Homo sapiens: one gene and its partners. The protein of the gene in region 2 purifies or fractionates together with the protein of the main gene of each other region. This does not show direct contact. Each region holds a gene or a part of one and is shown on either strand. Other genes may lie near its edges. The genes, in order: NKTR, ZNF786, PCDHA13 and GPALPP1.

What was found.
Region 1: the proteins of ZNF786 (region 2) and NKTR purify together in Homo sapiens (affinity purification with mass spectrometry; 2 studies listed by BioGRID and IntAct, with this or other methods). This does not show direct contact.
Region 3: the proteins of ZNF786 (region 2) and PCDHA13 purify together in Homo sapiens (affinity purification with mass spectrometry; 2 studies listed by BioGRID and IntAct, with this or other methods). This does not show direct contact.
Region 4: the proteins of ZNF786 (region 2) and GPALPP1 purify together in Homo sapiens (affinity purification with mass spectrometry; 2 studies listed by BioGRID and IntAct, with this or other methods). This does not show direct contact.

What each region holds. Positions count from the first base shown.
Region 1 is NC_000003.12:42,643,906-42,650,208, reverse strand, and holds the end of NKTR (NK-tumor recognition protein), read right to left. Parts: coding exon 6,206-6,303; intron 4,322-6,205; coding exon 4,234-4,321; 3' UTR 1,474-4,233; downstream 1-1,473. UniProt on the Homo sapiens protein: PPIase that catalyzes the cis-trans isomerization of proline imidic peptide bonds in oligopeptides and may therefore assist protein folding. Component of a putative tumor-recognition complex involved in the function of NK cells.
Region 2 is NC_000007.14:149,086,182-149,096,908, forward strand, and holds the start of ZNF786 (zinc finger protein 786), read right to left. Parts: upstream 4,538-10,727; 5' UTR 4,460-4,537; coding exon 4,442-4,459; intron 1-4,441. UniProt on the Homo sapiens protein: May be involved in transcriptional regulation.
Region 3 is NC_000005.10:140,883,251-140,893,003, reverse strand, and holds part of PCDHA13 (protocadherin alpha-13 isoform 1 precursor), read right to left. Parts: coding exon 8,342-9,753; coding exon of another isoform or gene 8,312-8,341; exon of another isoform or gene 8,124-8,311; intron 1-8,123. UniProt on the Homo sapiens protein: Potential calcium-dependent cell-adhesion protein. May be involved in the establishment and maintenance of specific neuronal connections in the brain.
Region 4 is NC_000013.11:45,027,538-45,033,558, reverse strand, and holds the end of GPALPP1 (GPALPP motifs-containing protein 1), read right to left. Parts: intron 5,775-6,021; coding exon 5,556-5,774; 3' UTR 3,254-5,555; downstream 1-3,253.

The DNA of each region.
Region 1 (6,303 bases), on a different chromosome or scaffold from region 2:
CCTGGGGCCTTCTGATTCACAGTGAGGAGTGGAGGCAGCAGCAAGGGAGCACTATCTCTACCTTGTACTGAAACTTTGAAAGAAAACAGACCACTAAAGCCTCCTAGCCCTGTGTGTATGTGGCCAGGGCAGGCTCTCCTTGCCTTGCACTTACCAGGCCCCGACAAGCTTCCCAGTCTGTCCTGAGATGAACAGGTGTTCTTTCAGGGTACCCAGCGTCCTCCCCTGACACCTCTGGACTCCTGAGGGGCCTTTACTGCATCAAAGAACTTCTCCCTGCTGTCTTCCCAGCTCATTCTACCACAAGGCCCTCATGGGCCTGCAGGCTCTTGCCTCACTGTGGGGAACAGCAGACTTGATTCTCTGTTCCAAAAACCAGAGTTCTCCGGAAATCTGAACCCAGTCCGTTTCACCTTGTGAGGCATGGCTTCCACATCCTTTCACCTGACCACATTAGTTTGCAACACTCCTTCAAGGCTCAGCATTTGCCTTGAAAAACTGAGTAGAGCCTCTTTTTTTTTTTCCAGTGGAGACGGGATTTCACCATGTTGGCCAGGCTGGTCTCAAACTCCTGACCTCAAGTGATCCACCCGCCTTGGCCTCCCAAAGTGCTGGGATTACAGGCGTGAGCCACCATGCCTGGCCACCTCCCGTCTCTTCTAAACAGTGATGCCCAGTTAGTGTCCATAATCTCTTGCAAGAGGGGCATTTTCCTTGAATTACCTTCCCGCCTATTTAATGCCCAGCTAATTCAGAAGAGTCAAGACCAAAGTCCTTGGCACATTTTCCCCCCAATACTGCCCAACTATCAAGTTTACCACTATCAGAACTTGATCCTGCATTTTCTTTACATTTTAAAGGAATGCATCCAGATTTGACAAATTTCAGGAGTTGCCCAACTAAGGAGTCCACTGTTAACTCAGTTTAAAAACTGAGTATCTGCAGTGAGAAGTTAACTACAATAAGTTATGTTGTATTCACTAAGAAAATAGACATTCCTTTCAGTTCTGAGGAGACAAAAGTTAATTGTACTTCCCCTGCAAATTCTTATGTGTATACTAAAAATATCACCATGAATGTTTTCTCTGGGAGTGAGTGACATGTGCTGCACTGCCTAGTGCGCTGCCGTTAGGGAGGGAAATGTAGAGGCTGTAGGTAAATGGACTGTCTCTAGGTAGAAACTCACACATGGGATGTGACATATTCCTCCCTCAGCAAAGACATCTTTATGCAGGTCATTTTAACTAGATGACAACAAAGTGTAGAGGAAATCTGGATTTTCCAGGGGAGGAAGACCAAACATCATTAATGCTTACCTGTGTAGGTTAAAATCTCTGCCTGACATTCTCTCTAGCTCCACCTCCTACACCCACCACTAACACTCAGCTAGGAGAAGAAAAGGAGCTGCCAAAGGAGATGAGGTGTCTTCACTGGCTGGGTCAGCAGAAAGATAAAACATGAACAGACTCAGACTTAGACTAAGTATATATTTTAATTTCTACAAGGTCCCCTTTCAAGTTTTAGGGAAATTTAACTGAAGTGTATACAAATTAGACATTGCTAATATGTACAAAAGTATTTTATACAGTTTTTGAACGATACTAGCTATTTGCAATAAACAGGATGTTACAAAAACAGTCCAATAATGCATTTCCTATTAAGAAGCACAATACACAACATAATTCAATTTTATTAAAAAATAACTTCAAAATGTAGAACAATCCCCTTTAGGAAGAAAAGCTATTTCTGTAGTTCACTCTGTCAGTAAACACACAAGTTGAACGCTGCAGCAGAGGGCTGTCCTTTTCCATGGAGAAAAGAAATGAGGCTTCTAGGGCCTATCTTTTCTGGGTAAAAATTCCACCTACAGCTGAGATGGGCAGTTATTGCCTGTGGTAGGCAGAATTTGAAAATGCCCCTCCCACTTTCAATGAGCTAATCTCCAGAACCCGTGAATATGATGAGATGAGACAGTACTCCTGCAATTATGTTCTATCGCACAATCAACCTTAAAATATATCTGTGGGCTTGAGCTAATCATATGCCCCTAAAACAGGAGGACGGGAGAGAGATATGAAGCATGAGAAAGAGCAGGAAGGCTGGTTTGAAGCTGGAGGGGACCACATAAGAAGGAATGCAGGCAGCCTTGAGGTGAGAGAGGGGCCTCCAGCTGAGAGCCAGCAAAGAACTGAATTCCGCCAACAACCTGAATGAACTTAGAAGCAGATTCTTCCCCAGAGCCTCCATGAAGGAATGTTGTCCTGCCAACCCTTATTTCAGCCTTTAAGACCCTGAGCAGAGAATCCAGCCACACTGTGCCAGACTCATGAGCTACAGAACTGCTATGGGTATTGTTTTTTAAACTGCTAAATTTGGGGTAATTTGTCACACAGCAATAGAAAACTAATACACTGCCCAAGGGTAACTTTTCTTAACCTAATTACATTTGGCAGTTTCTGCTTGGGTTCTGAATGCATTTTTTTCCTGCTGACTAGTAGTAATATTCTCCTTTGCAGGCAACCTTTGGAAACCTTTAATATAAATCATACTGTTTTGTATTCAGTATCCAGTATTGTTTGTTTGGCCTAAGTCCTGTTTTCTAATGTACTTTCTGTCTATTGACCTGGCAAACAACTGACCACCTTACCCTGTTTTCATACCTTCTTTGGGTGATAGTTTTAATACATTCAAGGGCACCCTCCCTCCACCAAGGGTTGTCAGCTCCCTCCAACTGAGGGCTCTTTTCCACTTCCCAAATACACCAGACAAGGCCTGTGGTAGGGTGGTGCTGAGCTCTACATCAGGCAACCAATATGAATTTCTTCTGCATAACTGGATTAAACTGGCACTAAGGTGATTAAGTACACTTGGGGAACAAATTCAAAGTAAAGATTAAAAAAAAAAACCACACACACACACACACACACACACACACACACACTAGTTTTTACAGGTCCAATTATTTTTGGAGGAACCACCCAAAGCCATGAAAATATGTAATTTATGCTATACCCTCTATCCCTCTTCCCCTGTCTCTTGCACCTGGGTCAGGTCACGCAAGGCTTTGAGTCAGCTGCAGGTCACAGTGGAAATAGGAAAAACATGCTGGTTACAACAGTTCAGCTGCTGTTGTGGTAATATCCTGTACTTGAAAGACTTGAAAGGAAAGCCCTGCAAAATGTCTCCAGGATGGTGGCAGTTAGATTTTTGATGTTACTTTTGAAGTCCATTCTTCACTCTTCCAGAGGCACACACACACAGTAGACTTGAGTGGCCAATATCTCTTACTGCCAATCCTGCCTGCTCCAGGGGACCCCAACCCACATCTGTACTTGAGAGAAGCCCCCCAAATAGTCAAAGTGAAGACAGCTCAGAATAAACCATTTTTGGTGCCAGTGATTTTGTCTGAATTTCATTTTTATGGTATTTTAATATATGATATATAAGAGTAATGCTTAAAGACGCACCAAAAATTACCAAGCACCAAAGCATGAAGTAGAATTGTTTTTATAACCTAAACTTCTGATCGGTATTGATTAAAAAGAACATAAAATAGTAAGTCCTCAGAGACAGTGCAGGTATTTATAGTTAAGGCTGATTGATTCTTCCTAACCTTGCCCACAAGCCTGAAGTAATACAGACTGTGTGGGATGTATGATGACCACTTTCCTAATCCTGTGAAGTATCAAAGAAGTTAGGAATGAATTAAGAACCCCAGAGCCACTGCCTTATACTCCTGGTTACCAACAGTATCAATTCTGGGTGGTTTGTTTTTAGAGCACATATGTACAAGACTCTATGTAATCAGTATATAAATATTTGGCCGCCTTTAACAGTTCTCCTTCACAGTTCTATGCTTGGCAGCATATATGCTAAAACTGGAAAAACAGGCAAAAAGAATCTGTATTCTAAGGGATACGTAAGATAGAGTGAAATAGACTTAAAATAATATTGCAAATTATACATAGATAAATTTCACGATTTCTTGATTCAAGAAAATGAAATTCATTTCCATAGTTGGCTACTGTAAAATGTGGCATAAAAATATTTTTAGGAGACATATCTGTATTTTAAATTCTTCTCCCCACATGTAAATGAACCAGTAACAATTAAGAAGTGTCTATTTTTGAAATTCACCTCTGATATTGAAATAGAACAACAGACTGTCATTACATTTCTTAAGCTAAGTTGCCAGATATTTACAAATAAGATATAATTTGTATCCGGACGTTTTCAACTGTATCTGCTGCTCTCACTGGGGCTCCGGTGATGAGAGTAACTTCGGTCACTTTCACTGTCAGAGCCATAAGATCTACAACTCCTGTAATAACAAAACAAAATATATAAAAATCTTGTAACTGTAAAATCTTTGAATTCCTCTTATAGCTTGTTTTTTATATGAGTGGCTTGAAAACATCAATAGTGTTTTCAAGCCACTCATATAACTGATGCACTATTGATGCAGCATAACACAGAGGTAGGGTACTGACTATGGCAACACCATGGACTTTTCTTTTTCTTTTTGAGATGGAGTTTCACTCTTTTTGCCCAGGTTGGAGTGCAACGGCATGCTCTCAACTCACTGCAACCTCCACCTCCCGGGTTCAAGTGATTCTCCTGCCTCAGCCTCCCTAGTAGCTGCAATTACAGGTGCCCGCCACCACGCCCAGCTAATTTTTTTTATTTAGTAGAGACGGGGTTTCACTATGTTGGCCAGGCTGGTCTTCAACTCCTGACCTCAGACGATCCACCTGCCTCAGCCTCCCAAAGTGCTGGGATTACAGGCGTGAGCCACCGTGCCCGACTCACACTATGGACTTTTTGAAGCTGTTTTAAATGACAAGTTGTAGTAATGTCAAGATTAAGATAAAATAAAGAAACATCACATCTTAGGAAATTTGTGTGAAATTCATTCATGCAAATGCTGGGACCACAAAAACAAAAAACCAATGAGCAGAATAGTTTCCCCATATTACCCAAAATGAGTATCAATATTTGAATAGATTACCTGAGAAAAGTAATGGGGAAAAGGTGCACAAATAGTTTCACTCAAGGAATGGAAACCAAAATGGGGTCCAATGAGGGGTGGGGGTGGCCCTGGGCATGAACAGGACCACTGGGATATTGAGTCAAGAGGACCTGGTCATGGGTCCCATTCAGTTATTTTGAAAAACATTCACTGTGAGCCAGGCATTTTGCAAGATGCTGGGAACACACACACACACACACAAAGACACAAAACCAAGTATAGTTCTCTGGGGTTCAAGGACAGAATAGAATAGTCAGCAAGACAAGTAATTTAGGAGCAAGGGGAGCCACAGTAGGAGCAAAGGGCTGTCTTAGAGGCACATGGGAGGGACTGTATCCTAGGATTAGGCATCAGGGAGGGCTGCCCAGGGACAGTGGAGATCTGCAGGGTAGATGGGAACTGGCCATTTCAAGTGGCAAAAGGGGAGATGGTGAAGAGGACACGTGTGTCTCCAGGCAGAAGGAAAAGTCCCAACACTTTAAAGGAGGGAAGCCAGAAAGAGTGTGAGCTGGAGTTGGTGCTGAGGAGGCTGGACCTGATCATGAAAGCAGCAGGGAGTCCTTGAAGAGTTTCAAGCAAGGGAGTATCCAGATCAGACTGATATTTACAAGCATCATTGCAGTTGCAATGGACAGGGGAAGGCAAGACCAGAAGCCACCAGAAAAGGACAGTACAAAAGTTAACATAAAGACTTTTGCAGAAGCCAAAATATGTTAAACATAATACATATAATACATAAAAAATGTATTTTACTAAATAATTGACAACATATAAACCTCAATCCTGCTGCTGAAGCAAATTATATTATGTATTTTTTTATTTAAAAAAAATGAGAAACTGGCTACTGCTAGCAAGTGGTTCTATTTAAGCAAGTGGCCATGGTTTGGGTGGCCTTCTTTCTTTCCAAAAGAAAGGTCTGTCCAAGATATGTGAATATTTAGAAACCCATTTTAGATTCAAACATTAATAATAACCAACAAATATTACCTGGCAACTCTTAATATAAAAGCCACTTTTAGTGGCTGCTTGTGGGTTGTTCAGATTTAAAGGAAGAAGTATTTCTGTCCTTGGAAGATTATACCACTTTCTCTTCCACTAGCAGCCCATCACCCTCCCACATCAAGTGCCCACCGTGGCCTACAGTGCGATAAAGGACGATAAAGGAGAGAGACCCACCTGGACCGCCGATTATAACTTCTGCCTCGGTGGTAACTGTCACTTCTCTGGCTTCTACTTCGACTCCGACTCCTGCTATAGTAGCTATCGTAGGTGTA
Region 2 (10,727 bases):
AGTCTGTTTAGTATTGCTGTAAAGGAACACCAAGGTGGGGTAATTTTTAAAGAAAAGAGGTTTATTTGGTTCACAGTTCTGCAGGCTGTATAAGAAGCACATCACCAGCATCTACTTCTGGCGAGGGCCTCAGATGGCTTTTGTTCATGATGGAAGGTGAAGGGGGCTGGGCACGGTGGCTTACACCTGTAATCCCAGCACTTTGGGAGGCCAAGGTGAGCAGATCACCTGAGGTCAGAAGTTCAATACCAGCTTTGCCAATATGGCTAAACCCTGTCCCTACTAAAAATACAAAAATTAGCTGGGTGTGGTGGCAGGGGCCTGTAATCCCGGCTACTTGGGAGGCTGAGGCAGGAGAATCGCTTGAACCCAGGAGGCAGAGATTGCAGTGAGCCAGTATCACACCATTGCACTCCAGCGTGGGTGACAGAGCGACACTCTGTCTCACACACACACACACACACACACATACACACAAAAGGTGAGCTGGCATGTGCACAGATCACATGGCAAGAAGAAGCAAGACAGAAGGGGGGATGTCAGGCTCTTTTTAACCAGCTCCCTCAGGAACTAATAGAGGACAGCACCAAGACATTCATGAGGGATCCACCCCCCATGACCTAAACACCTCCCATTACAGCCCACTTCCAACAGCGCAGATCCTTTTTTTTTTTTTTTGAGATAGAGTCTTGCTCCATCGCCCAGGCAGGCTGAAATGCAGTGGCACGATCTCAGCTCACTGCAGCCTCCACCTCCCAGGTTCAAGCAATTCTGTCTTGGCCTCCCAAGCAGCTGGGACTACAGGCGCCTGCCAACATGCTCGGCTAATTTTTGTATTTTTAGTAGAGGCAGGGTTTCACCTTGTTGGTCAGGCTGGTCTTGAACTCCTGACCTCAGGTGATCCACCTGCCTCAGCCTCCCAAAGTGCTGGGATTACAGGCGTGAGCCACTGTGCCCAGCCGCAAATCCAATTTTGACATGAGATTTAGGGACAAATATCCAAACTGCAGATATAGCAACACTTAAATCAGAAATTCATTATTTTAACTTTAAGGAAATATAGTCATTTCTGCTATAATCCTTGTTTTGAAATGTGAATTTGTTCCAACATGATTATTAGGAGACAATATATTACAAAATTTTGCATTTGCTTATGTGCAATTCTGTCTATAAGAAACACTAGATTAGTGGTTCTCAATCAGAACAATTTTGTCCCCTGGCAACATTTTTTATTGTTATAATGTGGGGAAGCGGGGTGGCCTATGGGCATCTAGTGCGTAGCAGCCAAGAATAGTGATAAACATCCTACGATGCGCAGGACAGCCTGCAAAACAGAAAATTATCCAGCACAGGATGTTAGTAGTGGCAAGGGTGAGAAACTTTGTACTATGTGAACAAACAGAACTGGGCTGCATAGACATACGCAAAATGCACACATGCAACACACTTCAAACATCAGATTACCCTGTGTTATGAGCCCTACCCATTCACCTCCGGGGTCACAACTTTCCATCTCATTTCAGATAACCTTCCTTTCACCACTTCACAATAGCTCACAAACTGCAACCCTTGCTATGCCCACTTCCACAAGCACATTTCAGGTAGTTCTTTTAGGTTTTTTTTTTTTTTGAAACGGGGGTCTCTGTTGCCCAGGCCAGAGTGCAGTGGTGCCAACACAGCTTACCATAGCTTTGATCTCCTGGGCTCAAGTGATTCTGTTGCCTTAGCCTCCCGAGTAGCTAGGACCACAGGGATATGCCACCACACCTGGCTAATTTTCTGTAGAGAGGGGTCTCACCATGTTGCCCAGGCTTTTTTTTTTTTTTTTGTCTTTCTTTCGAGACCGAGTCTTGCTCTGTCACCCAGGCTGGAATGCATTGACACGATCTCAGCTCACTGCAACCTCCGCCTCCGAGGTTCAAGTGATTCTCCTGCCTCAGCCTCTCGAGTATCTGGGATTACAGGTGCCCGCCACCACGTCCAGCTAATTTTTTTATTTTTAGTAGAGATGAGATTTCACCATGTTGGCCAGGCTGGTCTTGAATTCCTGACCTCAGGTGATCTGCCCACCTGGACCTCCCAAAGTGCTGGGATTACAGGTGTGAGCCACCACGCCTGGCCTGCCCAGGCTTATTTCAGGCAGTTTTTAAGGCAATTGAGATAATTTATTACTCATTAAAGTGCATAAAACTGCTTTTAGGTTCTTTCAACACATCACTGATTAAAGTTTGAGTATTGTATGTGTAACATTTCTCCCAATAAGCTCTGTGGTTTTTATTGCACAATTTTGCATAGCACTATGATTTTTAGAAATGCATATGCTGTATTATTGCAGAACTGAACGTATGTTTATACTTGTGTTAAAGATACTCATTCTCTCCTCTTCTCTGATTAAAATTCCTTACTTTTAAAACTTTTTTAATTTTTAGAAGTTTAAAAATCCAGAGAGTTACAGAGAAAACTATAAGCATCCTAGTATTCACCACTGACTTAACAAGTTTAACATTTTTCTTCAGAGTTCCTTTTAATGAAATAGAATGTGACCGGTGAAACTCAAGTTCTTGTGGTTCCTCTCTTCAATCATGTTCTGATATTGTCACATTCTCCTTCCTTTGTAAAGGCAAACATTATAAATAATATGGGAACTTTCCAGTTCATTTTAATACATATATGTATCTGTAAATATTCAGTATTACTTTGTGTCTTTTATACGTAAATACTTTATTATACTTGTATTCTTCCCTCAACATTTTGGGATCTGGCCCTGTTGAGTTTCTTTTTTTTTTTTTTTTGGAGACAGAGTCTTGCTCTGTCGCCCAGGCTGGAGTGCAGTGGCGCGATCTCGGCTCGCTGCAAGCTCCGCCTCCCGGGTTCTCCCGCCTCAGCCTCCCGAGCAGCTGGGACTACAGGCTCCCGCCCACACGCCCAGCTAATTTTTGTTTTTGTATTTTTAGTAGAGACGGGGTTTCACCGTGTTAGCTAGGATGGTCTCGATCTCCTGATCTCGTGATCCGCCCGCCTTGGCCTCCCAAAGTGCTGGGATTAGAGGCGTGAGCCACCACGCCCGGCCCTGTTGATCATATATGTAGCTAATTTATTTTAATTTTGTATAGTGTTCCACCGTCTGAATGTCACAAGTTTGTTTGTTTTTGAGATAGAGTCTCGCTCTGTCGCCCAGGCTGGAGTGCAGTGGCGCCATCTCAGTTCGCTGCAACCTCCACCTCCCGAGTTCAAGCAATTCTCCCTACCTCAGCCTCCCGAGGAGCTGGGATTACAGGCGTCCGCCACCACACTCAGCTAATTTTCGTATTTTTTAGTAGAGACAGTTTTTCGCCATGTTGGCCAGGCTGGTCTTGAACTCCTGACGTCAAGTGATCTGCCCACCTCGGCCTCTCAAAGTGCTGGGATTACAGGCGTAAACCACGGCGCCTGGCCTGAATGTCACAAGTTTTAAAATCCATTCTTTTACTCATTAATAATTTATTTTCAGGTCTGTGATTTGGCTGTTTATATCCTTTCCCCATATATATAGGTATGTATATATTTTTGGAGACGGAGTTTCGCTCTTGTTGCCCAGGCTGGAGTGCAATGGTGCAGTCTCGGCTCACTGCAACCTCCGTCTCCCGGGTTCAAACAATTCTCCTGCCTGAGCCTCCCGAGTAGCTGGGATTACAGGCGCCCGCCATCATGCCAGGCTAATTTTTTGTATTTTTAGTAGAGTTGGGGTTTCACCATGTTGGCCAGGCTGGTCTCGAACTCCCGACCTCACGTGATCCACCCGCCTCGGCCTCCCAAAGTGCTGGGATTACAGGCGTGAGCCACCGCGCCCGGCCTAATTCATTTAATAATCAGCAAAAATCCTCAACATTAAAGTTTACAAGATAAAAATACCCTCTAAACCTCGATTTTAAGAAACCACTAACTTAATTTTTTGTATCCTCTTCTACTCTTCCCAACGTATCATCTTACACTCAACCCAAATCACGCTAGACAATAAATTCTGACATTGAAGCCCCCGCCAAACACCATTTCAACCATTCGGAATCTTAAACTTTTTGGAACAGTTGTTCTGATTTCGGTGACTATGATGTAAAACTGGTTGACCTGTAACATCCACCTCTGGCCCCAAACCTTTCTATCCTTTCCACCGTCCGCTCCCCGTCCGCCCGGCATCCTCGCCCAGGCTCCGCCCCGCTCCTAGGTCGGCCTCGGTCCACGCTCGGCTTTGTCCAGGGGTTTGGCCACGGACAAGCCGCGGGAGCGGAGGCCACCTGCTCACCGCAGGGCCCGGAATCCACATCCCCAGCAGAAGCAGCCTGCAGACTCCGTCCTACCCGTGCACCGCGCGCACTCACGGGGACCCCAGGACACGGGCGAGCCCGGAACCCGAGGACCCACCACGACCCCGAAACCGGGCGTCCAAACAGGCTAGCCCGCTTACCCGAGGCGGCTCCGCCATGGTCCCCGCGGTCCCGCCCGGCCCTGGCAAACCCGACCGTCTCCGGCGGCTCCGCAGGAACCTGCCCTGCTGCGCACTGACTCCCCTCCGCTCCGCCCCAACCCGACTCCCACGCACAGCCCGGGTGGCCCCCAAACGCAGCGCCGGCCGGGCGCGGTGCATGCTGGGACCCGGCGCCCGGCCGCGGCTGCCGCTCAGTCCTACAGCGCCTCCTGCGGGAGGAAGAAGCGGCGCTGCCTGAGCGTCGGTCCTCAGAGGAGGGACCCAGGGGCCCGGGCGCCCTCAGAGCAGGCCGCAGCACGCCGGTCTTTGAGGGACCCTCGGATTCCCGGGATCTGGGGAGGGAAGCGGTCAGAGACAAGCTGAGGAGCTGGCCGGAGGGGAAACGGAGGGGCAGGACATGGAGAGATCAGGGACAGGGACAGGGAGAGATCAGGGACAGGGACAGGGAGACGCGCTCCACAGAAACCCAGACTGAGAGGCAGCGAGAGGGGAACCTCCGGTGCGGTTCCTCCCAAAGCCGCCCCCGAGACAGGCTTCGTCTGTGAGGGGGTCCCGGGAATCCAGCGAGGCCGGAAAGTGGGTGGGGGGCGCGCGCTGCCCGCGGTGGCCCGGGGCATCCGTCCCGCCGGGGGCGCGGAGGCCGTGGGGGCCCCATGCTTGTCCCGCCGGGGACGCGGAGGCGGGGTCCGCCCACCAGGTCCGGTCGCCGTGGGTCTAGAGCCCTCCGGGCTCCCCGGGCGGCCACGCTCCTTCCTTAGCAGAGAACGGCCTTGGGCAGAGACCCCATGCGGAAGCCACCCCGGCCTCAGGGCCGCCTGCAGGGACTCAGGGTGGCCCAAGGCTGCGGTCGGGCACCCCGGGCCCCGGCAGGAGACAGAGACAGAGTAGGAGGAGAAGACGGAGGAGGCCATGACACAGGGCGTGAGAAACACGAGAACGCAAGAACAGGGGAGAGGTGGGGAAACCAGGAAGAGACAGAAAGGAGAGAGGGCGAGGAAGGGGGTGGCGATTGTCTCCAGAAAATCAACCTCGCATTCTGTCTTAGTCATGTCTTAGGTGTCAGGCTGAAGTAGCAAAGGAAAAGTGTGTAGTTTGGAGAGGATGTGCATAAGAAATAAAATAGTCCCTGCGTAGGCTGAGGAGCATATACGCATCTGTGTTTGCCACAGAATCGTGAAATGTACATGCACCTTACTGTTTAACGTTTTTTATTTTTACAACTGTTATACAGTACAATTTTTTTTTTTTGGAGACAAAGTCTCACTCTTGTCACCCAGGCTGGAGTGCTGTGGCGCAATCTCGGCTCACTGCAACCTCTGTCTCCTGGATTCAAGCAATTCTCCTGCCTCAGCCTCCCGAGTAGCTGGGATTACAGGCATTTGCCACCACGCCCGGCTAATTTTTGTATTTTTAGTAGAGACGAGGTTTCACCATGTTGGTCAGGCTGGCCTCAAACTCCTGACCTTGTGATCTACCTGCCTCGGCCTCCCCAAGTGTTGGGATTACAGGCGTGAGCCACCGCGCCTGGCTTTTTTTTTTTTTTTTTTTTTTTTTTTTTTGAGACAGAGTCTTGCTCTGTCGCCAGGCTGGAGTGCAGTGGTGGGATGTCGGCTCACTGCAACCTCCGCCTCCCGGGTTCAAGCTATTCTCCTGCCGCAGCCTCCCGAGTAGCTGGGACTACAGGCACGCGCCACCATGCCCGGCTAATTTTTTGTATTTTAGTAGAGACGGGGTTTCGCCATGTTGGTCAGGCTGGTCTCGAACTCCCAACCTCAGGTGATCCACCCGCCTCGGCCTCCCGAAGTGTATACAGTACAATTTTTTAATGTATACTGCTATGAACTTTTTTTTTTTTTTTTTAGACGAAGTCTTGCCCTTGTTGCCCAGGTTGGAGTGCAGTGGCACGATCTCAGCTCATTGCAGCCTCTGGGTTCAAGTGATTCTCCTGCTGGCCGGGCGCGGTGGCTCAGGCCTGTAATCCCAGCACTTTGGGAGGCCGAGGCGGGCGGATCACGAGGTCAGGAGATCGAGACCATCCTGGCTAACACGGTGAAACCCCGTCTCTACTAAAAATACAAAAAATTAGCCGGGCGAGGTGGCGGGCGCCTGTAGTTCCAGCTACTCTAGAGGCTGAGGCAGGAGAATGGTGTGAACCCGGGAGGCGGAGCTTGCAGTAAGCTGAGATCGCACCACTGCACTCCAGCCTGGGCGACAGAGCGAGACTCTGTCTCAAAAAAAAAAAACCAAAAAACAAAAAAACCTGCTTCACCCTCGCGAGTAGCTGAGATTACAGGCGCATGCCACCATGCCTGCCCCGCTAATTTTTCGTATTTTTAGTAGAGACGGGATTTCACCGTGTTAGTCAGGATGGTCTCCATCTCCTAACCTCGTGATCCGCCCACCTCGGCCTCCCAAAGTGCTGGGATTACAGGTGTGAGCCACTGCACCCTGCCATGAACTTTTAACTATTAACTTTTTTTATAACTGTAAGTTATATAGAAGTATAACTTCTATACTACTACATAGAACTCCAAATTTTAACATATGCATAAACATGTAACTGACATCATAATCAGGCTGTTGTAAAACCCCAAAATCAGGCTTGTGTACCTCATGGGCAGCTGAGGCCAAACACTGAGACACCGGTGCTTGGAGATGCAAAAAGGTTTCATTGATTTGGCCAAAGCGAGAAGGCAGCAGAGCAAATCTCTAAAATCTGTCTTAACAAAAGGAAGCAGGGAGTTTTTATGGGGCTAGAGAGTAAGGGAGGGGGAGTTTCAGGGAACCAAGGGGGAAAGTCTGTGTTTCTTCAGTCTCTGATAACACCTTGAGCAATCAGGCTTCTGGGCGTCAGGGGCTGGCCACAACGACCCTGAAGGCATTCCCCCTGCAACAATTTTTCATGACCCTGAAGTTATCTCCTTCTCCTTGACAATCAAACAGTACATCAGCAGTATGTAATTATATTGTGAGAACAAGGAATATTGGGCAAAAAGCAAGTGGTTAAAACATGCAAACAAGCAAGGGCCTGATCAGAATTTTCATTTATTCAGTCCTTAAGAACTGCAGAATGCTGAAGTCTCAAGGGGCCCGGTTACAAGGCTATTGGAAGTTTCATCACCCTCTAAAATGCCCTTAAATAGCTTTTTTGTTTTGTTTTTTAAAAAATTGTTGGTCCGGCGCGGTGGCTTACGCCTGTAATCCCAGCATTTTGGGAGGCTGAGGCAGGCGGATCACCTGAAGTCAGGAGTTCTAGACCAGCCTGGCCAACATGGTGAAACCCCGTCTCTACTAAAAATACAAAAATTAGCCGGGCGTGGTGGCACGCGCCTGTAATCCTAGCTACTCGGGAGGCTGGGGCAGAAGAATCACTTGAACCCTGGAGGTGGAGGTTGCAGTGAGCCGAGATCACGCCACTGCACTCTGGCCTGAGCAACAGAGCGAGACTCCATCTCAAAAAATAAAACAAAACTAGCCAGGCATAATGGCAGGTGCCTGTAATCCCAGCTACTGGGAAGGCTGAGGTGGGAGAATCACTTGAACCCAGGAGGCGGAGGTTGCATTGAGCCAAGATCACGCCATTGCACTCCAGCCTGGGCAACCGAGCAAGACTCTGTCTCAAAAAAAAGAAAAAAAAGTGTAGAGACAGGGTCTTGCTATGTTTCCCAGTCTGGTCTCAAAATCCTGGCCTCAAGTGATCCTCTGCCTGGGCCTCCCAAAGTGCTGGGATTATAGGTGAGAGCCACTGTGCCCAGCCATCTTGTAATGTCTTTTGATCCACCTCCCTTCCTATATCTGTAACCCCTAGCAAGGGCTGATTTATTTCTGTCCCTATAGTTTTACCTTTCAAGAATGTCATATAAACGGAATTATACAGTATGTAACCTTTTGAGACTTATAAAAGTTTACAACATACTTCAACTCACTATACCTTTGAGATTCATCCACATTGTTATCTGTATCAATGTTATTAAGGAGCACCAGCTGTAGTGGCTCTCACCTGTAGGTCCCCTCAAGGGATCCTGAGGTGGGAGGATCCCTTAAGCCCAAGAGTTCATGGCCAGCCTGGGCAATATAGCGAGACCCCTGTCTCCAAAAAGAAAAATAAATGCAGGCCAGGCACAGTGGCTCATTCCTGTAATCCCAGCACTTTGGGAGGCCGAGGTGGGCGCATCACTTGAGATCAGGAGTTTCAGACCAGCCTGGCCATCATGACAAAAACCTGTCTCTACTAAAAATACAAAAATTAGCTAGGCGTGATAACGCCTGCCCGTAGTCCCAGCTGCTTGTGAGGCTGAGGTAGGAGAATCACTTGAACCCGGGAGGCAGAGGTTGTAGTGAGTGGAGATCACACCACTGCAATCCAGCCTGGGCGACAGAGGGAGACTTTGTCTCAAAAGAAAAGAAAAAAATGCATTAGTACTATGGATGTATCACAGTTTGTATAGCCACCGTTCATCAAAGGACATTTGGATTGTTCCAAATTTTAGCAATTCTGAAGGGAGCTGCTGCAAACATTCATGTAAGTGTTTTTTTCTTTTTTTTTTGAGATGGAGTCTCGCTCTGTAGGCCAGGCTGGAGTGCAGTGGCGCGATCTTGGCTCACTGCAGGCTCTGCCTCCCAGGTCCATGCCATTCTCCTGCCTCAGCCTCCAGAGTAGCTGGGACTACAGGCGCCCGCCACCACGCCCGGCTACTTTTTTTTTTTTTTTTTTTTTTTTTTTTGTATTTTTAGTAGAGACAGGGTTTCACCATGTTAGCCAGGATGGTCTCGATCTCCTGACCTCGCGATCCGCCTGCCTCGGCCTCCCAAAGTGCTGGGATTACAGGCGTGAGTCACCACACCTGGCCATGTCATGTACATGTTTTTGTGTGAACAGAGGTTTTCATTTGTCTAGGATAAATACCCAAGAGTGGGATTGCTGGTCATTCAGTAAGTACATATTTATAAGAAACAAATCATTTTCTAGAATGGCATGATGCTGTTTTGCATTCCCATCAGCAATGTGTGAGAACTCTAGTTGCTCCATATTCTCCATAGTAGCTGGTATTGTCAGATGTTCTAAGGAGTAGAAAGCCTACAGTGGGCTGTGCCTCATGTTTCACTGGTTTAATCCCAGCACTTTAGGAGGCGAAGGCAGCAGAGGATAACTTGAGGCCAGGAGTTCAAGACTAGCCTGGGCAACATGGCAAGACCCTGTCTCTATTTAAAAAAGAAAAGAGAGGTCGGGCACAGTGGCTCACGCCTGTAATCCCAGCACTTTGGGAGGCCGAGGTGGGTGGATCACGAGATCAGGAGTTCAAGACCAGCCTGGCCAAGATGGTGAAACCCCGTCTCTACTAAAAATACAAAAAAAAATTAGCCGGGCACAGTGGCAGGCATCCGTAATCCCAGCTACTTGGGAGGCTGAGGCAGGAGAATCGCTTGAACTCGGAGGGTGGAGGTTGCAGTGAGCCGAGATCACGCCACTGCACTCCAGCCTAGGCGACAGAGTGAGACTCCATCTCAAAAAATAAAAAAAAAAATTAAAAAATAAAATAAAAGAGAAAGCCTACAGTGCAGGGCACTGACAACTGAACATGTCAAATAGAAACCTTTGAAACACCCCACCCAGCAAAAATCCTAACTATGAAATAGTCTTTAGTTTTAGGAAGAAGACATAAAATTTTAACTGCAGGCCGGGTGTGGTGGCTCATGCCTGTAATCCCAGCACTTTGGGAGGCCGAGGTGGGCAGATCACCTGAGGTCAGGAGTTCGAGACCAGCCTGGCCAACATGGTGAAACCCCGTCTCTACTAAAAATACAAAAAGTAGCCAGGCATGGTGTGCACACCTGTAGTCCCAGCTGTTCAGGAGGCTGAGGCAGGAGAATCGCTTGAACCCGGGAGGCAGAGGTTGCAATGAGCCAAGATTGCGCCACACTGCACTCCAACTTGGGTGACACAGTGACAGCTTGGGTGATGCTGCACTCCAGCTTGGGTGACAGCTGCACAAGATTGTGCCACTGCACTCCAGCTTGGGTGACAGCCATCTCGAAAAAAAAAGAAAAAAGAAAAAAAAATTTTTGAGTGGTTTTTCTCAAATTCACTGTTTGGAAAGAAAATGGGAGAGGAAGAGTAATGATACAAAATTAGCATGTCAGAATCACCTGTGACAGCTTTGAAATGTACATACATTCCTTTCCCATCTAGTGGGACTGAAAGACATGATTTCAAGAATGTTTGATTTCTCCCTCATGTGACCCAGTCACCAAACCCTGCTTAATC
Region 3 (9,753 bases), on a different chromosome or scaffold from region 2:
ATAAATACATGTTCTCACTTATACGGCAGCTACAAAATTTTATTGAGCTCATGGAAGTAGTATTGTGCTTATCAGAGGCTGGGAAGGGTGAAGGAAAAGGAGGATGGGGAAAGGTTGGTTAATGGATACGAAATTATAGCTACACAGGAGGAATGGGTTGTGGTGTTTTGCAGCACTGTAGCACTGTAGGATAAATATGGTTAACTATAATTTCTTACATATTTTCAAGAAGCTAGAAGAGTGGATTTTAAATGTTCACCATGCAAAAATGGTAAATGTTTGAGATTATGAATATGCTAATTACCCTGATTTTATTATTATACATTGTATATATGTATCAAAATGTCACTCTGTATCCTATAAATATGTACAATTATTATGTACCAACTGGAAATAAAAGGAAAAAAATAGGTGAATGAATACTGAGATATACTTTTGACAGTCTCCAAGGACTAGAGAAACAAAAGTCAGAATCCTGAGTCTACCAGTCATGGTGGAACTTCTTAAACAATCTCTCATGTTTGGCTAGGAAACTGAATAACCGTACTTAAAGAATACATGTAAATTTTAGATAATGAGGTTTTATCTAGAATACCTGAAGCTTGAAATAGATTAAGATTACCCATGATTGCTAGTGCCCCAAGATGCCTGGCAAAAGTCAATTAAAATCCATTCTGGAGAAAGAAAATGTTATAAGCCCCAAATTATTTCCAGGAAGAAGTGTTTAATACAACTTTCAGCACAAAATCAAAGATAACCAGGTTTATGTGGAGACAAAACACCATAAAGATACAATTTTAAAACACACCACAGGAATAGACCCATGAGGATCCCAGTTACTGGACATATCAGAAATAGACGCTAAAACCATGAGCTTATTGTGTTCCAGATATAAATGCCAAGCTTGAAAGTTTCGAGAGGAAACTAGAAATTATACAAAGTAACAATAAATTTGAAAAAGAATAAATAAAAGTATCTTAGACCATTTGTGCTGCTATAACAGAATGCCACAGACTGAGTAATTTATGAGAACGGAAATTTACTTCTCACAATTCTGGAGCCTAGGGGAAGTCCAAGATCAAGGCACCAGCATCTGGTGAAGATCTTCTTGCTGCATCGTCACATGACAGAGCCAAAAGCATAAGAGAGGGACAGGCTCCTTCCATCAAGTCCTTTTACAGTGCCGTTAATTTATTCATGAGGGCAGATCCCTCATAATCTAAACATTTCCTGAAATTCCCCACCTCCCAACACTGTTGTATAAGGGATTGAATTTTCAACACATGAATTTGGGGGTACAAATTCAGACAACAGCAAGAAGAGAGAATTATTAAACTTTAAGGTGGGTGAACTATCCACAATAAAGCCCAAAGAGCAAAAGGTGTTAAAATAAAAGGTAGAAATAGATGGGATAGAGTAATAAGATTAAAATATGTTTAATTAGAGTACTAAAATAATACTATAGAAATACAATGGAACAGAAGCAACATTGGAGAACATTATAGCTGAGGATATGCTCAAAGTGATGTAAAGGCATTAATTCACAAATTCAAAAATCCTATACAATGGACGTTGGGGACTTGGGGGCAAGAGTGGGGGGTGGCGAGGGATAAAAGATTGCAAATATGGTGCAATGTATACTGCTCAGGTGATGGATGCACCAAAATCTCACAAATCACCACCAAAGAACTTACTCATGTAATCAAATACCACCTGTACCCCCAATAACTTACGGAAAAATTAAAAATTAAAAAAAATCCTACTGAATCCAGAACAGGATGATTATAAAGACACAGCATGGTAAAACTGCAAAATATCAGACACACAGAAAATCTGAAAAGCAGCCAAAGGAAAATAAACAGAATACCTTTAAAGGAATGACATTTAGATTGACAGCTAAATTCTTGACAGCAACAATGGAAACCAGTAGACACTGGAATAATATTTACTATGTGCTGTGGGGGTCACACCTAAGATTATACCCTCAGAAAAAATGCTTTTCAATAATTATGATGAAATAAAGACATTTTCAGAAAAACAAAACCTGAAATCATTCCTCACCAGCATCTTTGGACTAAAGGAAACTCTCAAATTATTCTAACATGGAAAGACAATAATCCCTGATGAAAGGTCAGAGGGGCAAGAAGTAAGGAAGAGAAACAAAACTGGTAAATATGTAAGTACATTTAAAACAATGTTGATTGTATAAAATAATACTAATATCTTATGGGGTTTTAAAATATTTTTAAAGCATGACAGAAATAGTATATAAGTCAAAAGGGATTAAAAAGATTTTAAAAATGTAAGGTCCCTGCATTTCCCAGAAGGAGGAAGGGTTTCAGTTAACTTTTGATTTTGATATATCAAGGATACATGCTTAATTTTCTAGGGTAAGCACTAGCTATTCGGAAAAGGGCTTCCAAATAATACAGAAGGAAATGGAACAATAAAAAGTACTCAGTCATTTCAAAAGAAGATCAACAAAGGAAGGAAATAGAGACATAAAAATGGTGAGACAAAAATAACGCACAAAAAATTGAAATATTTGTGCCTAAAGATATCACTAGGTATTGTAAATATAAACTAAATAAATATTCAAGTTAAAATTTATAGATTATCTAAGAAAGAGTACTTGTTCAGGTTATCCATTGCTATATAGTAAACCATCCCAACTACCTAATATCTTAAAACAACTTAATATTACCTCTCCTGGTTCTGACTCAACTGAGTGGTTCTTGCTTGCAATCAGGTGCAGTAGTGTACTGGTAAATGCTTAACAACTAGGTCTCTGGGAAAAAAGAAAAACAAAAAACTCTGTTTTGTAGCATTTGCCTATTTCTGTGGCAGAAATACTCCTACCATGGCCAATTTCAAGCTACCAAAGTGACATCATTGAATCCAGAGTTGGGAATAAATTTGCATTATCAGTTCTCATAAGCCAGTAAAAGAGCCAGCTCCAACACACTACAGTCACCTGAAGCCTTCTACATTTTTCTGGCACCTAAGCTTGGAAAGCTAAGACAACTGGAGACTGGATAGTAATTTTTCTATCCATTTGGCTTCTCACAAGTCCAGCTTGAGCTTCTTTACAGTATGACAATCTCAAGGTAGTCAGAATTCTTACATGGTGGCAGGCTTCCCCCAAAACAAATATTCTCAGAGACCAAAGCATACTGTAAGACTTCTTATGACCTGACTTCATAAATCCCAGAATGTTACTTCCAATATTAAGACCAGTCAAAGTTCAAGGAAAGAAAAATTAGACTCTGCTACTCAGTGAGACAGTAGCAAAGAACTTGTGGAATATGCCCATAATACTAAAAGGTTTAAAATAAAAGGCTGGGAAGAGGACATCTCCTGCAAACACAAATGAAAAGAAGAGAAATGAATCAGTATAATTAATATAAAAATATTTCAAAGCAAAAACAAAAATCAGAAAGCAGAATTCTGAAGAAAAGTAAATTAGACAGGAAGCAAAAATAATATCAAGAATGGAAAGGGAAATATCACTATAGATTCTGTAGAAAGTATGAGCATATAACTGAAAATTTAGATTAAACAGGAAAATACCTGAAAAAATATTATCTACGTAACTGACTCGAGTAAATTAAACTCTGAATGGTCCTTATACTATTAAAATTGAGTCAGTAATCAGAAATATTCCCACCAATCAAAATCCTGATACAGATAACTTCAACAGTGAGTTCTCCAATCAAATAAGAAGTAATTCAAAGATTATACAAACTTTTACAGGAAACAGAAAATTTTCTGGAAGTTTTCAAAGACTATTCTTCTTTGTTAAGTATTCAAGTTATGCTAGATTCTTATTTATAACTTGAATACTTAACAAAGAAGAAATTAGGAAGAAAAACTAGGACATATCAGTATCACCTGGAATAAAGATGAAAAAATTGTTTTGAAAATTTAACAAAATAAGTAGTATATTAAAAGGATTATAAATTATAATCAAATTACGGTTATCCAAGGAAGTAGAGGTTGGTTTGCCATAAGAAAATCATAAATCATAAATTCAACACATTAACATTGCCAAAGAAAAAATTTATACCTCCCTCAAAAGATGCAGATAAAATATTTGATAACATTAAACCTCAATTCTAATGTTTTAATTTTTATGTTGAGACATGGTCTCACTCTGTCACCAGGCTGCAGTGGAGTGATGTGATCACAGATCACAGATCACTGATCAACCTCCCCAGATCAGGCTATCCCTTCAAAATTAAAAAAAAAAGTGGGTAGAATAATTCCTAGAGCTCACAAAGGGCTGGAAATATTTCACATTCCTACCAATCAGAGAAGAGAGACCTCTTAATGCACAGGGCATTAGGTGGTGTCCTCAGGAAAGTATTGCTGTAATAGAAGGCCGAATTAGTGCTACACTAAAAGCTGCTCTGAATGTGTACTAACAAATCTTAAAATGAAGCCTTGAAAGGAATAAATTGGTACTGAGCAACTTAACTTCACGTCAGAACTAAGTCCAAGACTCTTTAAAGCAGAGTTTCTCAACAGTGGAACTACTGACATTTTGAGCTAATTCTTTATTGTTGGGCGGCTGTCCTGTGCACGGTAGGATGTTTGGCAGCAATTGGATGGTGTTTAGCAGCATCTCAGAGCTCCATTATTAGATGCCAGTAGCAATTCCCTAGTTGTAATAACCAAAAATGTATCCAGGCATTGCCAAATTATCTCCTGGGTAGGGGGTAGAGGGGACAAAACTGTTTCTTATCAAGAACTACTGCTTTAAAGGAACACGCACACACATGCACACACACACAAAATCCAGCATCCGACAATGTAAAATTCACAATGTCTAGCATCTTATTAGAGATTACCAGTCATGCAAAACAGCAAGAAAATATATCCATAGAAGAAGATAGATTAAAAGAAGCAAACTAAGGACAAAAATGTTGAAATTAGCAGACAAGAAAGTTAAAACATCTATTATACATGTACTAATATGCTCAAACATATAGATAAAAAGATGACTATTCGGTGGAGACATGTAAAATAAATTTTAAAAGAGACAAAAAGAATCTTATACAGATAAGAAATAAATATGGTCTCTGAAATGAAGAATACACTGTTTAGGATTAACAGATATGATACTACAAAAGGAAAAATTAGTGAACTTGGAAAATATGTCAATAAAAGATATTCAAAATGAGGCACAGAGAAAGAAATGGACAAAAATAAAGAACGCTTCAATGACCTGTGTCATTGTAACATATGTGTTACTGGAGTCTCAGAAAGGATGGAAGGAAAGAAAAAACTATTAGAAGAAGTATGGTTGATTTTTTCCTGAATTTGATGAAAATGATAAATCCACAGATCCAAGAATATCAACAAACCCCAACAGACTAACATAAAGAAAACCATACTAAAGCACATCACAATCAATCTGCAAAAGTCAGGATAAAAAGAAAAGTTTTAACAGTAACCATGAGGGGTGGGGAGAGGAAGACTCATATATAAAAAAGCAAACATCTTATTAGAAACTATGCAAGCCAGAAGACAACTGAATTATATCTTTTAAAAAACTGTCAACTATGCCCAGTGAAAATACTTTTTCAAAAATAAAAATGAGATAAAGAGCCGGGCGCGGTGGCTCACACCTGTAATCCCAGCACTTTGGGAGGCCGAGCCAGGTGGATCACGAGGTCAGGAGTTCGAGACTATCCTGGCTAACAAGATGAAACCCCATCTCTACTAAAAATACAAAAAATTAGCAGGGCGTGGTGGCGGGCGCCGGTAGTCTCAGCTACTCGGGAGGCTGAGGCAGGAGAATGGCGTGAACCCGGGAGGTGGAGCTTGCAGTGAGCCGAGATCACGCCACTGTACTCCAGCCTGGGCGACAGAGTGAGACTCCGTCTCAAAAAAAAAAAAAGAGATAAAGATATTTCTCAGACAAAAGCTGAGTGAATTTGTTGCCAGAACATATGCACTATAAAAAATATTAAAGAAATTTTTCAGGCAGTAGGAAAGTGATACCAACTGGAAATTTGGATTTACAAAATAATAAATTTCGTTGCTAAATGTCTAATGTGTAGAACATGCCTGGCACATAGAGAACACTCAATAAGTATTTATTAAATGCATTTAATTAATGAATGTTCAATATAGGAGTTGGGAAGACCTTTCTTTTTTTTTTTTTTTTTTTTCAAGACGAAGTCTTGCTCTGTCACCCAGAGCTGGAGTACAGTAGCATGATCTCATCTCACTGCAACCTCCACCTCCCGGGTTCAAGCAATTCTCTTGCTTCAGCCTCCCAAGTAGCTGGGATTACAGGCGCGTGCCACCATGCCTCGCTAATTTTTGTATTTTTAGTAGAGACAGGGTTTCACCATGTTGGCCAGGCTGGTCTCGGACTCCTGATCTCCTGATCCGCCCACCTTGGCCTCCCAAAGTGCTGGGATTACAGGCGTGAGCCACCGTGCCCAGCTGGGAAGACCTTTCTAACTGAATATGCAGACCTTAAAATCCATAAAAGGAAAAAGATATATTTTAATTCATACATTTTAAAAACATTTATATATGACAAAATTAGTACAAACAAATGAATAGAAATAATATAGGAGGAAAACATATTTGTGATGCAGATAATAGATAAGCACACCATGGCATGTACACCTATGTAACAAACCTGCACGTTCTGCACATGTATCCCAGAACTTAAAGTGTAATAAAAAATAAATAAATATAAAAATAATTTTAAAAAATTTTATCTATAAATAGAGATACTTTTATTTATTTCTGAAGTAAAAGTAACAAAATTAGAGAAATGGAGAACAGATTACTGCTTGCCAGCATTAGGCAGGGAAGCAGATGTGGCTATAAAAAGGTGATATCAAGAATCTGGTTGTTACGGAACTATGTTACTTCTTTACTGTATCAATGTCAATATCCAGGTTGTGGTATGGCCCTACGCTTTTGTAAGATGTTACTATTGGGGAAAACTTAGTGAAGAATACATAGCATCTCCCTTTACTATTTCTTTCAACCACATGCGAATCTATAATTATCTCAAAATAAAAATTTTAATTAAAAATGTCAAAAAATAGATAAACAGTTAATATCTATAAGGTACAGAGAACTTTTCCAAACTGAAACTAAAAATTTTTTTTCAATAGAAAAGTAGGCAAATAACTTAATGGATAAATCAAAGAAGATCAAATACAAATCAACAAAATACATATGACAATATGCTCAAATTCACTAATACTATACAGGAATTTAAAATTAAAGTAACAGTGAAATATCATTTCACAGAGATCACATTAGCAGAAAGTAAAACCACTATTGCTTCTTGAGATAGAAAGAGTGCTCATAACTGGTTGGTTCCAAAATACTTGGAAGGCAATCCAGTGACATATTTTATAATTAAAATTATTAATATCTTTGATGCATCAATTCCACATCTGACAATCAATTTCGTAGAAATAACACCAATATTTTGGGAAATATATGAAATGATAGCACAGCATGGTTCATGAAGATAACAGAACACTTGACACAAAGTGATTGCCCATCATTAGGTAAATAATATATAATTGCACACTTACACTGTGGAATACTACACAGCTATTAAAACCATTAGATTTGCAGGGACTGCCAAAAGGTACTTTCAGTCACCAGTACCTTTTGGAAATCCCTTCAAACTTTGGAAAAGAAATAATAACAAAAAGCCTACCAGGTCTCTCTCTATATATGTATATATATATGTATGAGTAATTATCTGAATGCAAATAAAAAATTGAAAGCAGAATCACAAGATATTTTTCATGGGATATATGAGAGGGGAACACTGATGTGCCTAGAGGACAAAAAAGTAGAGACAATCAAAACAGTTTAAAAAAAGAAAGAAAGAAAAGTGCACTTAAAAAAAGCATTTATGTGAAAAGTTATGGGGCTCTTTAAAATAATATCTTGTGGGTATATGTATACATTAAACTAAAAATTTTTTAAATTTAAGATTACGATTAGCCTCATTAAAACAAACATTTTCTAAATGTTTAAGTTCTCACAACGTGAGGAATTTTTTGTAAATGCTCAATTGCAAGATAAATACTTAGAACTATTAAGAATACAACAGAAACAAAATATTCTTGTTTTGCACATTTCATTATGGTTTGTGAGTTAAGATTTCACTCTGAAGGATAATCCAACACATAATGTCCACAGCAGAGTTGTTAAATTCGATAACAACTAGCAAAATTAAAATTAAAGTAAAGAATAATTTGAAATTGGCAGGAAAGATGTCTTAAACAAACAACTGCAAGGAAGGCTAAAGTGTTTACTAAGACAATTTTTTAAAATATAAGCTTACCTCTTTCAAGCATTCTGAGTCCTCCTCCCTCTGGCCTGTTCCCTCTGCAGAACCCAGACAAGGAGGAAGGCTGGGACTGAAGGCCATGAGGTCCGTCTTATGCGGGCCCTCCCCAGAGCACACCCTCGGCCGCCTCTGCTGCGAGTACGACCAACTCCCTGCCGCGCTGGAGCACACTAGAGTGGGCTTGCCCGGCGCGCACGCGCCCTCGGTGGGCGGTGCCGAGCACCGCAGCGCAGTATACAGCAGCAACGTGAGCACCAACAGGCTGGACACCGCGCAGATGGCAATGATCAAGTAAACATTGACATCCACCAGCGCCGCTTCTGGACCCACAGCGCCTGCCGACGCCCTCGACGAAGCCTGTGGCGCTTGGCCGCTCTCCACCAGCGACAACAGCACCGTTGCCGTGGCCGTCAGCGCGGGCTCACCGTGGTCCTTCACCAGCACCAGAAGGCGGTGGTGCGGCGCGTCCACCTCGTCCAGAGGGCGCGTCGTGCTGATCTCGCCAGTGTACAGCCCCACGCGGAACGGGATGCGCGCGCCGACCGCCGCCAGCTGCAATTCATACGAAAGCCACGCATTGTAGCCCGAATCGGCGTCCACCGCGCGCACCTTCGCCACCACGTGGCCTGCACCCACCGACCGCGGCATCAGCTCGCTCACTGTGCCTCCCGCGCTGCCAGCCCCGGGCGTCAGCAGCGCCGGAGCGTTGTCGTTCTCGTCCAGCACGAACACCTGCAGCGTCACGTTGCTGCCCAGAGGCGGCACGCCAGAGTCGCGCGCGCTCACCTGGAACTGCAACAGCTCCAGCTCCTCGTGGTCCAACGGCTGCAGCGCGTACACCTTGCCGCTCTCCGCGTGCACCGACACGTAGCTCGACAGCGCACGCTCGCCCACCCGCCGCTCCACCAGCGAGTAGGAGACCAGCGCGTTCTCCTGTGCGTCCGCGTCCTGAGCAGACACCGTGAAGATGTGGCAGCCCGGCGGATTGTTTTCCTTCACGAACACCGTGTACTCGGGCTGCGCGAACGCCGGCGCGTTGTCGTTCACGTCGGCCACCCCCACCGACACGCTGGCCGTGGCCCACAGCGAAGGCGAGCCCCCGTCCCGCGCGGTCACCACCAGTTCATAGGCTGATACGCTCTCGCGGTCCAGGGCGCTGTCCAGCACTAATGAGTAGTAGTTCTTGTAGGTGGACACCAGCTTGAAGGGGACATGCGGCGTCAAGGTGCAGGTGACCTGTCCATTTGAGCCAGAGTCACGATCGGACACACTGATTAGGGCAATAATGGCGCTAGGCTGAGTGTCTTCTCTGATGGGGAGTGACAAAGAAGTGATGGTAACCTCTGGGGCGTTATCATTTACATCTAGTACTTCCACCAAAAGGGTACAATGACCCGCCATTGGAA
Region 4 (6,021 bases), on a different chromosome or scaffold from region 2:
TTCTGTTCCTAAAAGCATTCTCTTAGTAAAGCTCAAAATGAAAAGGTTGAAAGGGGCAGTGAACAGCTTTTTAACTGTGTACATACTGCAGTCACAAGCAATTTTTTAAGCTGCAAAAATCATCTAAGTAGCATGAGCTTTTGAAACTGCAGACTTAAATCTCATGATGGCATCAAAAGCCAAAGCGAAATAAATCAATATTCTGAAATAGAAGACTTGGCTGTCGATGTTAATTGGGTGCTATCTCCAACCACTTTCCATCATGTTACTTCTTCCTCTTAGGTGTAACTCAAGAAATAACTTTTTTCTAATAATACCTATCACTGCATGGAAAAAATGAAAAGAGAAGTGATAAGGGCCTCCTATTAGTAGTTTAATATTAACATTATCTACCCTCAATAAGAAACAAAAAATGTCATAATGTTTTAGGATAAAATTACTTATACAATAACCATTGATCTATTCTGAAGCATGTAAGCCTTGGTACCATGCAAATCTCAACCTCACTTTTTTTTTTTTTTGGAGATGGAGTCTCGCTCTGTCGCCCAGGCTGGAGTGCAGTGGCGCGATCTTGGCTCACTGCAACCTCCGCCTCCTGGGTTCAAGCAATTCTTCTGCCTCAGCCTCCCGAGTAGCTGGGACTACAGGCGCACACCGCCATGCCCAGCTAATTTTTTGTATTTTAGTAGAGACAGGGTTTCACCATGTTGCCCAGGCTGGGTCTCAAACTCCTGAGCTCAGGCAATCCGCCTGCCTTGGCCTCCCAAAGTGCTAGAATTACAGGCGTGAGCCACCGCACCTGGCCAATCTCAACCTCACTTCTAAATAAATCGTTAATACAAAGAATCATTCAGGCCAGGCGCGGTGGCTCACGCCTGTAATCCCAGCACTTTGGGAGGCTGAGGTGGGCGGATCACCTGAGGTCAGGAGTTCGAGACCAGCCTGACTAACATGGTGAAACCCCGTCTCTACTAAAAATACAAAAATTAGCTGGGCACGGTGGTGGGCGCCTGTAGTCCCAGCTACTTGGGAGGCTGAGGCAGAAGAATCGCTTGAACTCGGGAGGTGGAGGTTGCAGTGAGCCGAGATCACGCCACTGCACTCCAGCCTGGGCAGCAAGAGTGAGACTCCATCTCAATAACAAAAAACAAAACAAAGAATCATTCAAGGTTAAGATGATAAATTAAATGTCAAGTGGTTGCTACATCTAAACAAGATCTACATCTAAACAAGGTTGCTAGCATCTAAAAACTCTTAGATCAGGGCTTTTCTCTTTTTTCTTTTTCTTTTTTTTTAGAGCAAGACTTAATTTACCATGTTGTGCCTAATACAAAAAGGATTTCATTTATCTGGTAAGGCAGTCTTAGTAGGGGTGTAGCCACCATCTCTCGTGTTTTGTTCACCCCTTACTTCCCCACTTGCTAAACCCAATAACCCCACCGTTTACTTACCAGTAATGTGGTTACTATTTGAAGCATCTAAATCTATTGGAGATGACAATTTAGAGAGCTGGACAAAAATCATATAATTTCAAGTATAACAAACTTAAATGGCATATTCAATGGTAAGAACATTAAAAGTATCTGCTCCATTATATTAACTTAGTGTTGCTCTTTTTTTCTTCTTCATTTTTAAATTTCAAAAGAGGCCACATTCCTATGACACTTGGCCAAGAAATGTAGGAAATTAAAAAGTCCTTATTAAAATGTCTCCTGCCAGATGGAAAGGAGACTTGATTCAATTAGGCCTTTTGCATCTTTGGAAGTGGGGAGGGGATGAAATAAAGACACCTTTCCGTCCTGTGCAATAACTACTTTGTCCTTTTGTTGTCAATATTCTTGTATTGGGATTAGTCTCTCTGTGGGGCAAAACAACCTCTGAAACTGGCCTTACATTTTGTTAAAATTATCCTCAGGTTGGCACAAAAGAGCATTATCTCCAAGGCCAGTAAGGTAGTAACTCCTGGAAGCAATAGGCGGAAAGCAGAGGTTTCTCTCCTTCATGCCAAGGTCATGGTCACTCCAAAGGTGAGGGATGAAACAGTAAATATATAATACAGAAATATCCCTATTCTCTTTAAATGAGGAAAACAAAGAAAAGTAAGTATCCAAAGATAACAATTTTACTTTAAAAAATGCAAATTTCTCAAAAATATATGTTAAGAATTTACATAAGGAAGAGGAGCTACAAAATACTTTTTTCCTTTCATTGGGAAAAAATTATAACAAAATTAAATTAATGCAATGGAGACACTCTTGTACAAAATTTTGTGTTCAGAAAATACTGCTCATTAAAAATGACATTTTTAGTCAAAAGGTAGCTCTGTTCAATTTTGAGTACACAAGAAGCTTTTTCAATTTGCTTAGGAGAAAAATTCATCTATTTATTTACTTATTTATTTAGAGATGGAGTTTCACTCTTGTTGCCCAGGCTGGAATGCAATGGTGTGATCTTGGCTCACTGCAACCTCCGCCTCCTAGGTTCAAGCAATTATCCTGCTTCAGCCTCCTGAGTAGCTGGGATTACAGGCACCCGCCACCAGGCCCGACTAATTTTTATATTTTTAATAGAGACAGGATTTCACCATGTTGGTCAGGCTGGTCTTGAACTCCTGACCTCAGGTGATCCACCCACCTCGGCCTCCCAAAGTGCTGGGATTATAGGTATGAGCCACTGCGCCCAGCTAATTCATCTTTTTAATAGCAATGCTCCTTTAGTTTGCTATGGTTTACACTGATGCTATGGAAAAAATATACTGTACTGCTATTATTAGAGGAAGAATAATTTGTACCATCATATAAACAATATACTCAATTTTCATAAAGCTTACATGAACTGGGAATCAGAATATTTTTCCATTAAAAATTTGTGTCTTGGCCAGGCATGGTGGCTGATGCCTGTAATCCCAGCATTTTGGGAGGCCGAGGCAGGTAGATCACCTGAGGTCTGGAGTTCGAGACCAGCCTGGAACAATATATAGTGAAACCCCATCTCTACTAAAAAATACAAAAATTAGCTGAGCATGGTGGTGCACGCCTGTAGTCCCAGCTACTTGGGACACTGAGGCAGGAGAATCGCTTGAACCCAGGAGGCGGAGGTTGCAGTAAGCTGAGATCACGCCACTCTACTCCAGCCTGGGTGACAGAGCAAGACTCCATCTCTCAAAAAAACAAAAATAAACAACAACAAAAATTTGTGTCTCATCAAAACTAGAATACTAGTGGAACAATTGGGATTAATCTGCAAGAAAATATAACTTATAGAATTGGCATTTATTTAACAATAGTTTAATAGTTTAAATAGAATTTCTCATCTTATAAATTTATCATCTTAAGAGGCAGTGCTTAAAGCATTACAAACTTATAATACTCCCAATTAGGGGGGTTATGATTATAAATTTTCCATTTCCATTTTTGTATTCAGGGATTATTAAATTTTTAAAAAAGGCTATTCATGACTGATATGACCCCCGTAAATTAGCTAAAAAAAAGATATGACCCCATAAATTAGCTACAAACTGTTAAGTACAGCATATAAATGGGTAAAGTAAAGTTGTCCCAAAGCAAAGTTCCAGGACTCAGAAAGCTTTGGTTGAGATCAGAGATTGAGTCTTACAGATTTCACAATGCTAACAGTTAATGGCATATCTTATCTTGATTGCCTCCCCTAGAAATACTAACTATTAAAGTTGGAAAAAGCAAAATAGTTTTTCCTTAGCACATGAGATAACCCAGAGATCTTTCTGACTTAAAAACAATTAAAAAATTAAATAACAAATAAAAAGCCCTGAGTGCTAAAACAAGCAAACTGATTACAAAACAGGCAAAACCCCATACCCTCTATTTTCAAGTAAATTTGTATTCACTGGCTGCAGTTTAAAGGGAAAAAACAACAAATTTCAAAGTCATGGATTTACAGTAAGGACTTGACACACTGACTCTAGGGCAGGTTAGGTATATTTCACAAGGAGGTCCAGGCTGTGGTAGAGATTTGGTGGTCAGTCCTGACCAGACCTTAGAGGGTACTTGTGAGACACCACAAAAATCAGGGGGAATGGAAGCCTCTTAAAATAATTATTTGAAGAAAAGCCCATAATTCCCCATACTTCCACAGAAGCTAAAGGCACATAGAATATTCTGTTCTACATAAAAAACATTCGTTTTATGTTTCCACATGACCTTAAAAGGACATACAGAACAAGGTAAATTTGTATGTTTTTTAAGATTAAAGTAATCTCTAATCTTAAGAAGCCAAAAACAAAGAAATAAAGATGGACAAAGAGTATTCTTCAACTTTTCTTCATTGCACAGGGAAATCCCCCTGAGGTAAGAATAAGAAAACTCAGTAAGTTGGAAAATATTTCTAAATTTAACATATTTTCCTCAAAAATCACATTTGAATATTGATATAGGTTTAATACAATTAAAAATCATAAAGATATTAAGAAGCAACCTCAGCTTTTATGTAATTTCTTTTCTTCTCTTTTTCTTTCTTTTTTGAGACAGAGTCTCTCGATCTTGTCACCTAGGCTAGAGTGCAGTGGCACGATCTCGGCTCACTGTAACCTCCACCTCCCGGGTTCAAGCAATTCTCCTGCCTCAGGCTCCCAAGTAGCTGAGATTACAGGCACGTGCCACCACACCTGGCTAATTTTTATATATATATATTTTTAATAGAGATGGGGTTTCACCATGTTGTTCAGGCTGGTCTCGAACTCCTGACCTCAGGTGATCCACCCGCCTCACCCTCCCAAAGTGCTGGGATTACAGGTGTGAGCCACTGGCCTCTTTTTTTTTTTCTAAAGAGACGAGGTCTCACTTTGTTGCCCAGACTGGAGTGCAATGGCACAATCACAGCTCACTGCTGCCTTGAATTCCTGGGCTCAAGGGATCCTCCCACCTCAGCCTGCTGAGTAGCTGGGACTATAGGTGTGCTCCACTGCACCTGGTTAGTTTTTTGTAGATACGGGGTCTCACCATCTTAAGCAGGCTGGTCTCAAACTACTGGGCTCAAGCGATCCTCTCACATTGGCCTCCCAAAGTGTTGGGATTACAGGCGTGAGCCACTGCACCCAGCTTTATGTAATTTCTTAATCACCATTCTGAACCCTTGTCAGATTGGGCTATGGATGAATATTGGAATAGTTTTGAACCTTAACTTATAGGGGACCTTTCTAAGCAACAAACATTTCCTAGTTGGGATTTTGTTTAACATACAAACAACCAGCAAGCCTTTCTTCATCTTTAATAAAGCATGCATATTTACTCAAGTATCAAACCACACCTTCCTTTGCCATTTCTCATAAGCTGAATTTTTATTTTAGCATTTTTAATAGCAATGCCCTATTAGGTTATTATGAGGGATTTTTCCAGTAAGACATATTTTTCATCCCACAAGGCTGACTTTTCAAAAATCACTGTTTACTTATAAAAATATAAAATTTTTAATCTATTATAAAAGGAAATAGATTTCAGCACAATTATTAAAGACAATAGAGTATTTAGAAAAGTTCACATTGATCAGTATTAAAATATACCTCACTGAAATATACTTACTTATAAAAACATATTGCCTTTGCCGTGTGAAAATCTGGTGTTTAGTTCTCTAGATTTTTTTATTAGGGCTTTTTTCTGAGCTTCATCAAACCGATTAACCTTGAGATCTTTATCACGGTCAAATGGTATTCTCTCTTGAGGCTTATTTTTGTCTTCAGCAGCCTTACTCTTTAACTTTTTATGATGTATGTCCATAAGAGATTCTGATCTTTTTGATTCCTGGAGAGAGCAGGAGAGCAGAAATAAAAACTATAGTTTGTATATAGATTATTGACAGAATATGACCATGAAACGGAATAGATAGTAATGGTGCACATTAAGGAGGGCTATTTACAAACCCCAGTAGTTTTTTTTTTTCCAAATCCAAGACAGCATTTATAAAGAAAATATGTAATGAAAAGCATTATGGTTATTTAAATACTAAACATCAGAGTACAAACCAAGAACGGGGTGTGAAAGAAAGAGC